Linked DNA regions of Homo sapiens. The protein of the gene in region 1 interacts with the protein of each later gene in a pairwise test. Each region holds a gene or a part of one and is shown in the gene's direction. Other genes may lie near its edges.

Evidence for each region.
Region 2: the proteins of RCBTB2 (region 1) and TMEM132D interact in a two-hybrid assay, tested with the Homo sapiens proteins (one large-scale study listed by BioGRID).

The regions. Positions count from the first base shown.
Region 1 is NC_000013.11:48,491,684-48,495,312, reverse strand, and holds part of RCBTB2 (RCC1 and BTB domain-containing protein 2), read left to right. Parts: intron 1-3,629.
Region 2 is NC_000012.12:129,697,809-129,701,628, reverse strand, and holds part of TMEM132D (transmembrane protein 132D precursor), read left to right. Parts: intron 1-930; coding exon 931-1,819; intron 1,820-3,820. UniProt on the Homo sapiens protein: Regulate neuronals morphology via inhibition of the WAVE regulatory complex (WCR), a complex that controls F-actin cytoskeletal dynamics.

The DNA.
Region 1 (3,629 bases):
CTTAGTGGTTATCATTGAATGGTGGGATTGTGGGTGATTTTTATTTTCTTCTCTTTGCTTATTTTTTTTTAACTTTTACAGTGACCATGTATTGTTATGATAATAAAGAAAGGAAAGAAAACCAATCTTAGAACCAAATCTTTAGGAAACAGGCTGTAACATCTTCGAGTCAGTTTCCTTTTGGTATAAGGATATCCTCTCCTTTGGTCAAAGAAAACAGAGACATTTTAGTAGATGAAAGGTTATAACTTTTTTTCTGTTTACATAAATAATACTATGCTTATTAAAGAAAATTTGTAAAAGACAAAAAGTGAGGAAGGTAATGACTCATCAACCAGAGAACATTAGCACTTTCATATAACAGCTTCTGAGTTTTTGTTTTATGTCACATTATATATTTGTAAATACTTGAAACCTAGATTTTTTTTCACTTAACATTAAAAAAAAAGTACTACCTCAAAACAATGACATTTAACAGCACAGTGAATGTTTTATATCAAGGCAATAACATATTGGGCACTTACAACACAGAATGTTTCATGGTCAGACAAAATCCATGCACTTTTCCTAGTCCATTCTTGAGCATCACAGTGATGAGCCACGGTGATGGAGGGCCATCTCAGATGTCAAGATGGTGGCACGTGGTGTTTGCATCTGAATCAGGCTTCATTTTTAATACTTTTTTATATTCTCTATTTATGTGAATTATTTGTCTGGCTACCTTCCAGCTCTCTGTTTTCTAGAAAGTAAGCTCTTTGAGGCATGGCAGGGACTTTGTTTTGCTCACAACCATATCCCCAGCGCCTAGGACGGTGTCTGACACAGAGTAGGTACCTACTAAATACCCCTTTCATGGATGTTCAGTTTTGCCTATAGAGATGCACTGTTGTACTACAGCCTGTCCAGCTAATTGCTGTACCCTAAATTAGTATAATAGACTATAAGTAAAATAGACTGTATATGTACTTAATGTAAAATACAAGCTTTCGTAAATAAAGAACAGTGCTGTATTTGATTTGCCTGGCTCAAATAAGCAAGAAATGGGCTCTTTCAGCAAATTATTATCCCTCATGCTGGACTGTCACTTAGTACATAATTAATATGAGCCAGGGATTATTCTAAGCACAGTTCATGTTTCATTTACTCCTCAAAACAACCTTATATGACATAGGCATTATTATATTAGATCCAGTTTATAAATGAGAAAACTGAAGCTTGGAAAGATTAAGTAATCTGAGTAAACTAGTAAACTGCAAAACTGGGATACAGTCCAAGATTGGGCACATTTTAAAACCGCATGTTTAACTACAATTCTCCATTGTCCTCAGTATTTTGAAATCAGGAGTATTTATGCATGGATTCAACAAATATTCACTGAGTGCCTGCTACATGCCTGGCACTGCCCTACGCACTGGGGTACTGCAAATGAACAAAACAATCCAAAATCTCTGCTCTCATGGGAATTTCTGGTGAGGGGAGATAGGTGATCAATAAATGAATAGGATATATAGTATGTCAGATGGTGACAAGTGATATGGAAAGAAGTAAGACAGGGAAGACAGCCTAGGGAATGCCATCCTGAGATGAAAGTTGAAATTTTAAATAGAATGGTCAGGGAGGCAAGACATCAGTGAGCAGGTGACTCAAGCAGAGACCTGAAGGAGGTGTGGGTGGTGTGTTCTGGGAAAAGCAAGCCCGGTGTGGAGGGAGCACAGTGGGGAGGGAAGTAGCTGATGAGGCAGGGAGATGGTGCGGTGGAGGTGCACAGTGGCGTGTGTGGGAGGAGGCAGGGCCTGCAGAGTCCATAGGCAAGTTTCAGGAATCAGAGTTCCAAGGTGAGTGGCCATCAGAGGGTTTGGAGAGGAGCAGATATGATGGGCATTTGAAGTAATCCTCCTGCCTCCTGGCTGCTGTGTTGAGGAGGGAGGGAGGGAGGTAGGGAGAGAGAGAGAGGGTGAGAGAGAGAAGAGAAGAGAGAGAGAGAGAGAGAGAGAGAGTGTGTGTGTGTGTGTGTGTGTGTGTGGAGAGAGAGAGAGGGTGAGAGAGAGAAGAGTGTGTGTGTGTGTGTGTGTGTGTGTGTGTGTGTGAAGGAGGGTACTTAGGAGGCTGTATAATCCAGTAAGTGATGATGGTGGATTGGTCCAAGTTATCACCTGTGGGGATGGTAAAAAGTGGTTAAGATTTTGAATACATTTTGAAAGTAGAGCCAACAGGATGTGCGGATGGATTAGATGTGAGGAAAAAAAAGACGACTGAGGAGGTTCTGTCCCTCAGCAGCTGTAAGGATGAAAGTGGCATCTATTGAGATATAGAAGATAGGAGCAACATTTTGGGGGAAATATCAGAAATTTGGTTTTGAATATGAGAAGTATGTGATGTCTATTAGACATCCAAATGGAAATGTCTAATAAGCAAATTGGATAAGCAAGCCTGGAAGTCAGAGAGAAATGTGCTGAAGTCAAAGCTATGAGGCAGTGACGTGAGACAGGTTTGAAGATTAAGTCCTGAGCACTCTGTGCTTAGAGGTTAAGGAGATAAGGAGACACCAGCAAAGGAGACTGAAGAGGAGTGAGCAGTAACGGAAGAGAGAAACCAGCAGACCGTTTCCTGCAGGCTGGGAAAGAAAGCGAAACAGGAAGGAAGAAGTCCGAACCACACCAGATGCTGCTGGCACGTCTGCACGAGGACTGAGAACTGACGAGTGGGTTTGGCGATGAGAACGCCGGAGGGGCCTTGGCAAGCAGTTTTAGCGCAGTGAGGCGGGAAGTCTGATCGGAGCGTGGAAGTAGAGGAACTGAAGATGGGGAATAGAGGCAGCTTTTCATGGTAATTTTATTATAAAGATAAAAAGGAAGAGCTTTGGGGCATTTGAGGTAAAACATCTTTACTTTTTTAAGATGTGGGAAATGGAAGCTTGTCTAATGATGCAAATGACTCAGTGAAGGGGAACAAGCCAGTGATGCAGGGGACAGTTGGTAGAGCAGGGCCCCTTAGTAGGTGGAGCAGTGGGATCTAGTGACAGAGCAAGGGCTCTGCTTTCTATAGGGTCTTGGACCTTTGATCCAGAGAAGATTGCATCCACAGGCCTCTCTGTAATAGGCAAGGAGACGTGGTGGGGAGAGCTTGTGGAGGTTCTTTTCAAGTGATTCTGGTTCTCAGTGAAATAGGAAGTCATGTCAGCTGAGGATGAGGATGAGAGGGGAGATGTCAGGCTTATGGGGAGAAGTATGAGAGTCCTGTAGGAGAATGAGCAAACTAGGAGAATGTGGTAGGACTGCAGGACAGAACAGAGGGCCCCATTTTGAACATGAAGCCATACAGAGTGGTAGCATTCAAAATAGACTACAATTCTTTAACTGAAAAATAATGGGGGCCTTGTTTTCTATGGACAGAATTCCCCTATAACCAGTACCACCACCCTATGCCAATTTATTGAATTCTTAGAATCACAGGAACTCTTTCCAAGTCCTGTCCTTAATTTAGTATTTAGGGGAAGATCCCACTCTAGAATAAAGTAAAGGAGCATGGATCCAAGTGATAACTTTTTAGGGTCCTTTCATTCTCCCATTAATTAGCAATTTTCCTGATGCTGTCCAGATCTGTGAGGCATCAAACTGCCCAGCCACCTA
Region 2 (3,820 bases), on another chromosome or scaffold:
TAACATTTTGGATTTTTCTCCCCCTGAGGGAGAGATACGTTCAGTGCGGAAAAATGAACAATGGATTTTGTTCGTTGGTGACGGCGTAGTGTCCACAGGATGTGGCTGGCATGGAAGCGAGGTGCTGCCCTTCCCGTGCTTCTTAGGTTCAGGGTCCAGTGTTTCATAGATGACTTGGAGCATTGCTTTGTACGCCCGGCCCTGACACATTGGTGTCGTGGTCACCTCATCTCATCTATTTCTAGAGGGCCCCTCCCAATATATCCTTCCAAGGTATTTTCTCTGCATCTCTCCCCTTAACTCCAACTGGGGGCGGGTGTCCACTGTCCATGTGATTTATGATTGTGCATCTGCGTCTATTTTTGCCCCAAGTCTGTTAGCATTTCCCATTGGACATGTGCGTATATGCAGAACGTGCATATGAGTGGAACACAAAGGAATATGTATCAGGTGGAATGTGGACGTGGCATCAATCCATGTGTTGAGGAAGTCATTCCTGTTTCCAATCTCAGTCTGTGTTGAGTCAATGGGACGGTGCCTCTCTGTCGATGGTAGCTTGTCTGTGACAGCTTTCTAACACTTGCTAATCTCTCCTTTGATCAAAAAAAGAGCAAGTCTTTACCATAACCCCATAAAAACACCATTATCACGAGTGGAAATTTTAAAACTGTATTTGAATTGTATTTATTTGCATGCTCAACTTTTTTATAGGTTAAATGATACTGGTTTTCTACTTAGGTTGGTGGCATTTATTTCTTCTGAAACAAATAATATGAAGCGAGTAGATTGGATTAAGAGGTTTGGATAAGGAATTGCATAATTGGCGCGAAGACAGGGTCCTCTGTTATGAAGGGGGCACGCAGATGTCTGAAATGCTGGTAACAGGACCTTAGCATTACTAACGCCTGCACTGCGATTCCCTCCCCACAGTGACGGAAGGTCGAGGGATCCTTGAGAGCATCCAGAGGTTTTCCTTGCTGCCCACCTACCTCCCCGTGACCTACCACATCAACAACGCGGACGTCTCCTTCTTCCTGAAGGAGGCCAACCAGGATATCATGAGGAACTCCAGCCTGCAGTCCCGGGTGGAGTCATTTCTGATTTACAAATCCAGGAGGCTGCCTGTCCTCAATGCCAGCTACGGGCCTTTCTCCATCGAGCAAGTGGTGCCCCAGGATTTAATGCTACCTTCCAACCCATTTGGATTCACCAACAAATTTTCTCTTAACTGGAAACTAAAAGCCCACATCCTGCGGGACAAAGTCTACCTGAGCCGGCCCAAAGTGCAGGTTCTGTTCCACATCATGGGCAGAGACTGGGACGACCGCAGCGCCGGGGAGAAGCTGCCGTGCCTGAGGGTCTTTGCTTTCCGAGAGACCCGAGAGGTGCGGGGCAGCTGCCGGCTGCAGGGGGACCTGGGGCTGTGCGTGGCCGAGCTGGAGCTCCTGTCCAGCTGGTTCAGCCCCCCCACGGTGGTTGCCGGGAGGAGGAAGTCCGTGGACCAGCCGGAGGGGACCCCCGTGGAGCTCTACTACACCGTGCACCCAGGGGGTGAGAGAGGGGACTGCGTCAGGGAAGACGCGAGGAGAAGCAATGGGATCCGGACAGGCCACAGTGACATCGATGAGTCCGGGCCCCCCTTGCAGAGGATCGGGAGCATCTTCCTTTATCAGACACACAGGAAACCCTCCCTGAGAGAACTGCGTCTGGACAACAGCGTGGCCATCCACTATATACCAAAGACCGTGAGGAAAGGAGACGTGCTGACTTTTCCTGTTTCCATCTCCAGAAATTCCACTGAAGATCGCTTCACGTTGAGGTAAGTCGTTTCCCAATGTCTGTCTGTACCCGCCCGTCGATCAGGTGGTGTTTTCCAGAAGCTGTTTGACCAGAAAAGCTGTGTTATCGCTCACCGAAGTAGAGCCGGCCTTCCCGTTCTTACAAACTCCATCTGCACCGTGGAATACAGAGACCAGTCTGATCGTTCCGGGTTGGCAATTGGGTTGTGAGAATATTCGTCTTAATAGATTTTCCAAGCCATTGATAGGGCAGCCGGGGGGCTGCTGATGGTACGCCTTTTCCCTTAGCTTAGGGTATTATCAGCAAGTTTTGGGAATGCTAAAATTATCCAAGAAGGCTTTTCAAAATTGGGAGAGTTAAATGCCTCACAGCTGAAATGAGACTGCAAATGAAATGGCAACAGTTGTCAGAAAGGACAGGGAACACGGTTTTGCCAACTCAAAATCTATTCCAGATATGTAAGTTCTAAGTATAATATGGTACCAACCTCAAAGTTACCATTTTGTTTCTCCCTGGAAATAGAACTTAGTGTTCAAAAAAATAAATGAGCATAACGTGTGAAGAATATACAGTAGAATTTGTTGAGTTTCTTATATAAGAATATACCAAAGAGAAGACATTGAAAATAAGCTCTGTGTACTTTAGAATAAATATAGGCTGGTTTTCACTGTGGAATATAACGTATGAGAGAAGCTACTTGCCTAGGCTTGTTTGTATTTTCATTATATAGTTTTAGTTTTATTTTCAACACAGGCAAGTTTGATTACAACAGCTGTTTAGTAGAAGTGTTTTTGGGTTATTAAAAATGTCCTAGCACTGCTACATAACTCAACAATTTGACCTGATGTGCAATGTAATAAAATGTGTGTTATGACTCCTGAAATGAGGAGTGTAACTGTATGTAAGACATGTTTCATATGTGGGCTTATAAACTTCATCCAATGATGACCAGCTCTCTATCCCCCTTCATATGGGATTTATGGCTGCTTTTTCTAGCTTTTCTTTTCTTCTTTTCTTTTTTCTATTCTTTTCTTTCTCCCTCTCTTTCTCCCTCTCTCTTTCTCCCTCCCCTCTCCTCTTCCCCCTCCCCTCCCTTCTCCCCTCTCCCCTCCCCTTTCCTCCCCTTTCTCCTCCCCCTCCCCTCCCCATCTCCTCCCCCTCCCCTCCCCTCCCCCTCCCCCTCCCCTCCCCTCTCCCCTCCCCTCCATGCCGTCTCCCCTCCCCTCCCTCCCCTCCCCCCTCCCCTCTCCCCTCCCTTCTCCCCTCCCTTCTCCCCTCCCCTCCCCTCCCTTCCCCTCTCCCCTCCCCTTTTTTCCTTTATGTTTAAAGGGTGGATGAGTTTAAGAAAATAAATCACCGTTTTGATTCTACCTTGCACATTTAAGTTTATTTGATTGTGACCTAGTATTAGAAATGCCTATTTTAACTAAAGAAACAGAACCTAATGGACATGCATCTAATGACTGAACTTGGCTAAGTCCTGGAAGGTAAAAACCTTTGGCCTGGCTGGACGTGCCATTCGCGGAATAGCCGCAGGGATTTAGGGTACAGGAACACATCTGCGCTGGCCAAGCCTTCATTAGCGTTCCCTTCCGTCCTTCTGGAAATCGGATCTAGATCCAGCTGGCCACAGGTCCTCAATGAGGTCTGCTAGCTTTGTGTTTTACTTTTCTGGGTTCAACAGTCTTACATAGTATTCTTTGTGAGGATGGCTGCTTACGTAGAGAAATATTTTGGTGGTGGAAACAAAAAGTTTGAATAGGGGAGCTTTGATCTTACACCGTTTCATACCGTCTGCCATTTTTTAGGTCCGCCAACGACTGACTTGATTTTCTGAACGCAGGATTAAACACTGCAATCCCCTGAAGCTTTGACTCTCAGGAGATGAGAGCCACATGCAGCTTGTGTGTGTGTGTGTGTGTGTGTAAGCAGTGATGTGTGTAGCACTGAATTTCACAAAAAGCTTTGTGTCTCATGACTTTATGACACACTAAACATATCCATTAGGGTCCAAGGGTGG